Homo sapiens: one gene and its partner. The protein of the gene in region 1 purifies or fractionates together with the protein of each later gene. This does not show direct contact. Each region holds a gene or a part of one and is shown in the gene's direction. Other genes may lie near its edges.

Evidence for each region.
Region 2: the proteins of TSPAN7 (region 1) and ZMPSTE24 fractionate together in Homo sapiens (co-fractionation; one large-scale study listed by BioGRID). This does not show direct contact.

The regions. Positions count from the first base shown.
Region 1 is NC_000023.11:38,672,905-38,676,722, forward strand, and holds part of TSPAN7 (tetraspanin-7), read left to right. Parts: intron 1-1,316; coding exon 1,317-1,412; intron 1,413-2,800; coding exon 2,801-2,956; intron 2,957-3,818. UniProt on the Homo sapiens protein: May be involved in cell proliferation and cell motility.
Region 2 is NC_000001.11:40,267,921-40,271,738, forward strand, and holds part of ZMPSTE24 (CAAX prenyl protease 1 homolog), read left to right. Parts: intron 1-498; coding exon 499-615; intron 616-2,054; coding exon 2,055-2,207; intron 2,208-3,818. UniProt on the Homo sapiens protein: Transmembrane metalloprotease whose catalytic activity is critical for processing lamin A/LMNA on the inner nuclear membrane and clearing clogged translocons on the endoplasmic reticulum.

The DNA.
Region 1 (3,818 bases):
GTTTGCCTGCTAGGCAGTAGTGGGCTTGTTTCTCCACCATGAGTCCTCAAAATAGTCTAGTGCCTATTCTGTGTACAGTCCCCCATCCTAAGAGACAGCTTAAGTGTAGCGAAATGAGATGACACAGCTGGGTGTGGTAGCCACCTTAGCTTAGAAGCTGCATGTAACTGGTATCTCTATCTCTTGTAACTGTCCCATGGACATAGTTTACAGCATTTTAGCAAAGAATATGCCTAGTTAGGAGAGTCACCATACTTAGCCCTAAGCTTCCCACCAAGTAGTTATTGTCATTTGCTGTCCTCCCAATCTGGAGGCATTTTACCAATTGGGGGTCAGTTTTATCAATAAACTCAGTGGCCTGGTAACACATTCGACATTCCACCTTCATCAGGTTTCCAGGGAAACAGAGCTTGAAAGTTACCCCAAAGTCAAATGTGGTAACAGAAAAGGTTTTGTTAACTTTTTTTTTTTTTTTTTTTTTGAGACAGAGCCTTGCTCTGTTGCCAAGGCTGGAGTGCTGTGGCACAATCTCTGCTTACTGCAACCTCTGCCTCCTGGGTTCAAGCGATTCTCTTGACTCAGCCACCCAAGTAGCTGGGATTACTGGCGCCTGCCACCATGCCTGACTAATTTTTTTTTTGTATTTTTAGTAGAGACTGGGTTTTGCCATCTTGGCCAGGCTGGTCTTGAACTCCTGACCTCAAGTTATCTGCCCATGTCGGCCTCCCAAAGCACTGGGATTACAGGCATGAGCCACTGCACCTAGCCAACCTTTTTAAGTTCTTGTCCTTTATTATCTTTTTTTTTTAATTTGCCTCAATAAAGACAGGTAAGTGAAAGTTGGTTTTGCCTCACTCCTATGGTAAAACAGGGATCAGTTTTTGACCAAAACATCAGTCATCCTGTCCACCCAAGTGGTTTGTCTTTTATGAGCCTCCTGTGTAAGGGCAGAGAAAGTTATAGAAAGATGGGTATTAATCAATTCAAAGAAAATAAGTAGAAAGCTCATGCCTGAGGTTTGGCAGCTCACCATCACAGGCCTTTCAGAAATGGACAGGCCCCTCCAGTAGGTCATTCAGCAGGTCAGGCTTTCTCTGGATTGAGGCTGAGGGGAACAATTTTTTAAATTCCGGAGCTTAAAAACCCCCTGGTGAATTTTCTGAGCTTTTCCATCTCAGAAAATGGGGCATTGCCTCCCTGGCCTACATTTATACAGAGACTTTCAGAAGAGGCTATGTTAGGGTAGAATTTGGTAAGAATTGGAGTCAGTTTGGGCTGTGGTGGACTGCAATCACATCCCTCCTTGTCTTCCATAGATCAAGGACACCTTCCTGAGGACTTACACGGACGCTATGCAGACTTACAATGGCAATGATGAGAGGAGCCGGGCAGTGGACCATGTGCAGCGCAGCGTAAGTTCCAGAGGAGATGAGGGTGTGAACTAACTATGAAGTCTAGGCTTAGACTTATGGACTGCCTGTAGGTTGGCCCAGTAGTTGCTATTTGTTCCCGTTCTTCAACTCTTAGTCCAGTTCCATTGCCAAGAGTTGACACCCAGTCCTTGTCCAGGCTCCAGTTATTCAGGTAATTAATGTCAAGGAGGACCACTCCCTTGAGTGTGCCTTGTATCAGTAAGGGTTGCAAGTATGGCAAGGACAGCTCATTTGCTCTTCAGATCTGAACCCTTGTGAAGGAGTTAGGCAGTGAGTGTGTGACAACCTTGCTTAGAGTTGGCTCCCGGAGGCTGGCTTTCTGGAATCGATGTCTTCAGGCTGGGTGGAGAGCTCAGGCGAGCTGCATTCACTGGCTGGGGCAGTGGAGTGGGCATAGAGTGGACCTAGAAGAAACTGAGGCTCTGTTAGGTATGTGAAGGTGGTGAGCTGCCTGATGCTTTGCGGAGGATATGGGGGAAATAGAAGAGAGATTTCCTGTCTGGGTGGCAAGTGCTGGCACTCAAGCATAACTGCCCATCAGGAATCACTAAGGGGGATTTTGCTTTGGTTTTTCTTGGTTTTGTTTACTTCAGAAGAAGTCTTTTTTCTAATTTATTTTGATAAAAGTTCCAACATATACAGAAAAGTCTCAGGAATACTACAAGGAACTGTATACTCAGATTTACCAATTAATTATATTTTTGCCCCGTTTGCTTTAATATTCTCTACATTGGGGTTGGCAAACTTCTTCTGTAAAGGATCAAATAGTAAATATTTTAGGCTTTGAGGGCCATAAACTCTGTCACAACTACTCATCTCTGCCACTGTAGCACAAAAGCAGCCACAGACAGTATGTGAACACATAGTTGTGGCTGTGTCCCAGTAAAACTTTATTTACAAAAACAGGTAGCTCCTGGGCTATAGATTACCAGCTTTGGCTCTCCCTTTCTGTATGTGCATCTTTTTTTCTTAAGAACTATTTATTTACTTATTAGTAGATATCCCAGGGGAGAGTTTTTTGAAACCATATTTGCCTCAACTCACCAATCAATAGTCCTGATTTAGTGGATGAGTACATCTATATCAATAGGTGATTGTGAGTTGGACACAGACGCACTGCTTTGCTTTGTGGAGGTAATAAGAAAGCCAATGTGATATATAATTTAGAACTTCCTTCTTGGAGATCAAACAAGCATCAATATGGGTATAATTGTTATTGGAGCTTCCATTCATCTTGACTCACCAAAGCTGCACATGTTGTCTTAGGGCTTTTGCCTGTGTTTCTCTTATAAAAGTCACAAGGCAGTGATTGAGGAGACCACATTTGATCTGCCATTTTTTTATTCTTTTCCTTTCCCTGTTAATAGCTGAGCTGCTGTGGTGTGCAGAACTACACCAACTGGAGCACCAGCCCCTACTTCCTGGAGCATGGCATCCCCCCCAGCTGCTGCATGAACGAAACTGATTGTAATCCCCAGGATCTACACAATCTGACTGTGGCCGCCACCAAAGTTAACCAGAAGGTACCCGCTTTCTCCTGGCCCAGATGGGACCAGTGGTGAATGTTTGGGGGGGCTTTTTTATTTCCATGAAATTATGACAAATAGATTTGAAATAGTAGTCAAGGGAAAGAGAATCTTACTTTGTGGTTCCTTGATTGCCTGGGAGAGGCACTTGAGGCTGCTCACTTCTAAAAGAGAAAGCTGTGACTCAGATCAGCCTTGTCTTTCTCTCCCACAGCAAGGATCTACCAGGCATAGTTAGGAAGGTTTAGCAAGCAGTTCCTGTTAACCCTGATGCTTATGTCAGACAGCGAGTGTTGGCTTTCTTCTTTTGGGGTGTCCGTCTTCTGCTTAATATACCATCTAAACATGAAATTGTTTGCAGCTGGGTGTCAGTTTTTGACAGCAAGAGGGGAGTAGAGTTGACAGACAGCATCTGCTTCTGCTAGGAGGGTGGCCTTTATTTTAGGGAGTTTACTGCCATAGGAAAAGAAATCAGCAACTCTGATTCAACTCACTGTCAACCTCCCGACTCCCAAAGAAATTAGAGAGGGGAAAAAAGAGGACTAAACGAAATTTAAAAGTTAGTACATAGTGAAAATGAGGGAAATGAAGTTTTAGTAGTCAGAGAAGAGGAAAATCAATTCTGCATTCCATTTTACAGAGAATACGATGAAGACATGATATAACTGCATGTGAAGATTATCTACATCTTAAATGTTTAGAGAAATACCATATATAACATATATTTTGGTAAACAAAAGGGAGGAAAAAACCTACTATTGTGTTTACTTCCTGTTATTCAGTCAAGGGGTAAATCTTTTCTTGCTAAGGTAAAATTCTGTTCATATGATGCCTTCAAAATTCTATGTGATCTGGACCA
Region 2 (3,818 bases), on another chromosome or scaffold:
GCAGGCTTTCCACTAAAGTTAATTTTTTGGCTTCTGCCAATGTTAAGATTTGCCTCTCTGTTTGCATAGTCCTTGGTTACCCATGCTGTATTGGCATAACATTAGTTACAATAACAAATCCCAGAATATCACAGGCTTATTTGCAATGGTTTATTTCTCAATCACGTAATAGTCCAGTGTGAGTATTTTTAGTTATCAGGTGACTTTCTTCCATGTGGTAAGCCAAGAATCCAGGCTCTTTATCTTAGGGATTTGTCTGTATGATTTAAGGTACCTTTCATATAGTGCCTGTGTAATAAAAAAGGAATTGTTTTGTTTCTCATTTACTTCTCTCAAAAGTAAACTTTTTTGAAGGCAGGGATGATATTTCAGACCTTATGTTATCCATAGAATCAAGCATATTGCTTGGGATGTAGTAAGTAAGTGCTCAGCAAATACTTGTTGATTTGTTTGCCAGTAGTTCATAAAAACTGGATTTTTGTTTTTTCTTTTGTTTAGATCACTCAGTCCCTGGTGTTTCTGCTGTTGGCTACACTTTTCAGTGCATTGACTGGTTTGCCATGGAGTCTTTATAATACTTTTGTGATAGAAGAAAAACATGGCTTCAATCAACAGGTATAATAAAGAATACAAATGTTCTCTTTTAAATGTGAAAAACTTCTGTGCTTTTGTCCTGTACTGTTTATAATTTAAACATAATTTACTATTTCAGAGTATGAATTGAGAAAAAAGGGAACTACAGATATGGTAAAGATCATAGCTGAAAGTCTTGGGGGCCGCGGTGGCTCTGGCCAGTTGCCCTGGCACTCGGGGAGGCAAGGCTACATGTTCGAGGCCAACCTGGTCAACACTGATTTTAAAAAAAAAATACTTAAGGCCAGGCCCAGTGGCTCATGCCTGTAATCCCAGCACTTTGGGAGGCTGAGGCGGGTGGATCCCAAGGTCAGGAGATCGAGGCCATCCTGGCTAACACCGTGAAACCCGTCTCTACTGAAAATACAAAAAATTAGCCGGGCTTGGTGGTGGGCGCCTGTAGTCCCAGCTACTCGAGAGGCTGAGGCAGGAGAATGGCGTGAACCCGGGAGGCAGAGCTTGCAGTGAGCTGAGATCTCGCCACTGCACTCCAGCCTGGGTGACAGCAAGACTCCGTCTCAAAAAAAAAAAAAAAAAAAAAAAAGAAAGAAAAAAAGTCTTGACTGGGTACAGTGGCTCACGCCTGTAATCCCAACACTTTGGGAGGCTAAGGCGGGAGGATCACTTGAGTTCAGGAGTTCAAGACCAGCTTGGATAGTATAGTGAGACTTCATCTCTACAAAAAAATTCTAAAAGCCAGTTGTGGTGGCATGCACCTGAAGTCCCAGCTACTTGGGAGGCTAAAGCAGGAGGATTGCTTGAGCCCAGGAGGTTGAGGCTACGGTGAGCCATCATTGTGCCACTGTACTCCAACCTGGGCAACAGAGCCAGACCTGTCTCTTAAAAAAAAAAAAGAAATTTATGTTATAAACTCCTTTAGCACTAATATCTATTGTTTTTCAGCTACTAATCATTTGTTTGTTTGCGACAGGGTCTCGTTCTGTCACCTAGGCTGGAGTGCAGTGGCAGGATCATGGCTCACTGTAGCCACGACCTTCCAGATTCAAGCAATCCTCCCACCTCAGCCTGCCTAGTATCTGGGACTATAGATGAATTATACTACACTGGGTTAATTTTTTTATTATTATTTTTAGTAGTGACAGGGTCTCACTATGTTGCCCAGGCTGGCCTGGAACTACTGGGCTCAAGCAATCCTCCCATCTAGGCCTTCCAAAGTGCTGGAATTACAGTTGTGAGCCACTGCACTCGTCCTCAGTTAATAAGGTTTAAATGAATTTTCAGCTGTAAAATGCAAGACATTTACCCATTGTCTTAAGCTGCCTAATGTCATATAATATAGTTTCACTGCATGTTAATTTTAAAAATTGCTTTAATAATGTATCCTTTGTATTTATTTATCAGTTATTTTAAAAAGCAGAACCAGTTTCTCAGTTTCTTGTGGTAATGTTTTCTTTTTGCAGACTTTGGGGTTCTTCATGAAAGATGCAATCAAGAAATTTGTTGTGACTCAGTGTATTTTGTTGCCTGTGTCTTCACTTCTACTTTACATTATTAAAATTGGGGGTGACTATTTTTTTATTTATGCCTGGCTGTTCACATTAGTTGTGTCTCTGGTGAGTAAAATCTTTATTTCGTTTTCTTTTGCAAAAGTTCCTTGGTGAGATTACTGTAATCTTCATTGGCATGTAAACAGTTCTTAAGAAGCAGCTGAAATATAAATAGGTGCTTATATACATTTCCCCCTTGGTTTCTGCTTTTGATTGTAGACACAGGAGTATTGACTGACCATAAATTTCCTTCTCCTTATGCTAACTCTTCAGGTCATAGAAACTAGTTGTTAGTCACTTTTAATGATTCAGTTGTCAGGCAGTTTTGGGTTGTGCATTTGCGAGTTGCCACCAGAATGACTAAGTGTGATAATTTAATGACTCCTGACTGACCTCCACTGCCTAAAATCATGGTTATTTTGAAGAGAAATGAGATTTAAGAGGGACAAGAGAAAGAAAGCATATACTTAACTGGCTTTCTTCTGCTTCCCTTCCCTTGCCTTTCCCTTCCACGTTAGACACTCTCTCCCTTCTTTGCCCCATCTGCTTCCCCTTCCCCTTCTATCTTTTACCCATTCTTCTTCCTTTCCTTCTCCTGTCTTCCCTTTTCTCCCCAACTGCCACCTATTCCTGCCTCTCTTCTCCTTTCCTTTTCCCTCTCACTCTTTTCCCCCTGATTTTTCCCTCCCTCACATCTCCTATTCCTCTTCTCTTTCCATACTCTCAAGTGCTTCACAACACAAACACTACAACGCAGTCAAAATGGTCTGTTCAGGGCCAGGCACAGTGGCTTATGCCTGTAATCCTGGCACTTTGGGAAGCCAAGGTGGGAGGATTGCTTAAGCCCAAGAGTTTAAGACCAGCCTGGGTAACACAGTGAGACTCTGTCTCTACAAATAATAATTTTTAAAAAACCCAAATGAAAAAACCCAAAGTGGTCTGTTCAGTGCACCCAGAAATTATCATCTATCAGCTCTTCAGCTCCACTGATGAGGTTTATTTTATTTTAGAGATAGGGCCTCCCTGTGTTGCCCAGGCTGGAGTACAGTGGCTATTTCACAGGCATGATCATAGTGCACTACAGCTTTGAGCTCCTGGGCTCAAGCAGTCCTCCTGCCTTGGCCTCCTGAGTAGCTGGGACTACAGGTGTGTGACACCATGCCCAAGCTGAGGTTTATTTTAGTCTGAATTACATAATGCTCATTGTTTCATTTTCCATTGATGGGATCAAGATCAGAAAATGGGCGCTAGTTGGATTTACAGGTATCTATTGTATGGCAAATTAAAGTAAGATGAAAAAGAGCAGAGAAAATGCTCTAAAAATGCTTAAGGAAGTGCTATTTCAACCACATTGTACAATTATGAACTACAGGTAATTAATTTTAGCTGATAAGCCAACCAAGTAACAGCACACAATCAAGTTCTACTAATTCTTTTTTGGGAAAGACTTCAGGTCTATTGTGATTACGCTAAAAGGTAGAACTGCGTGTTATGATTGACTCATGAAGCATCAGAAATCCCCAAGATAGTTTTGAAAGGACTATACTTATTACCACCTAGAGATTTTAATCACTGTTAGTAGCATTATCCTTTAAAATAAAATTCATAAGTTTACTCTGTTATCAGACTACTCATTTCAATTTAATTCATCAGACAGATATTATGCTCTTACTATCT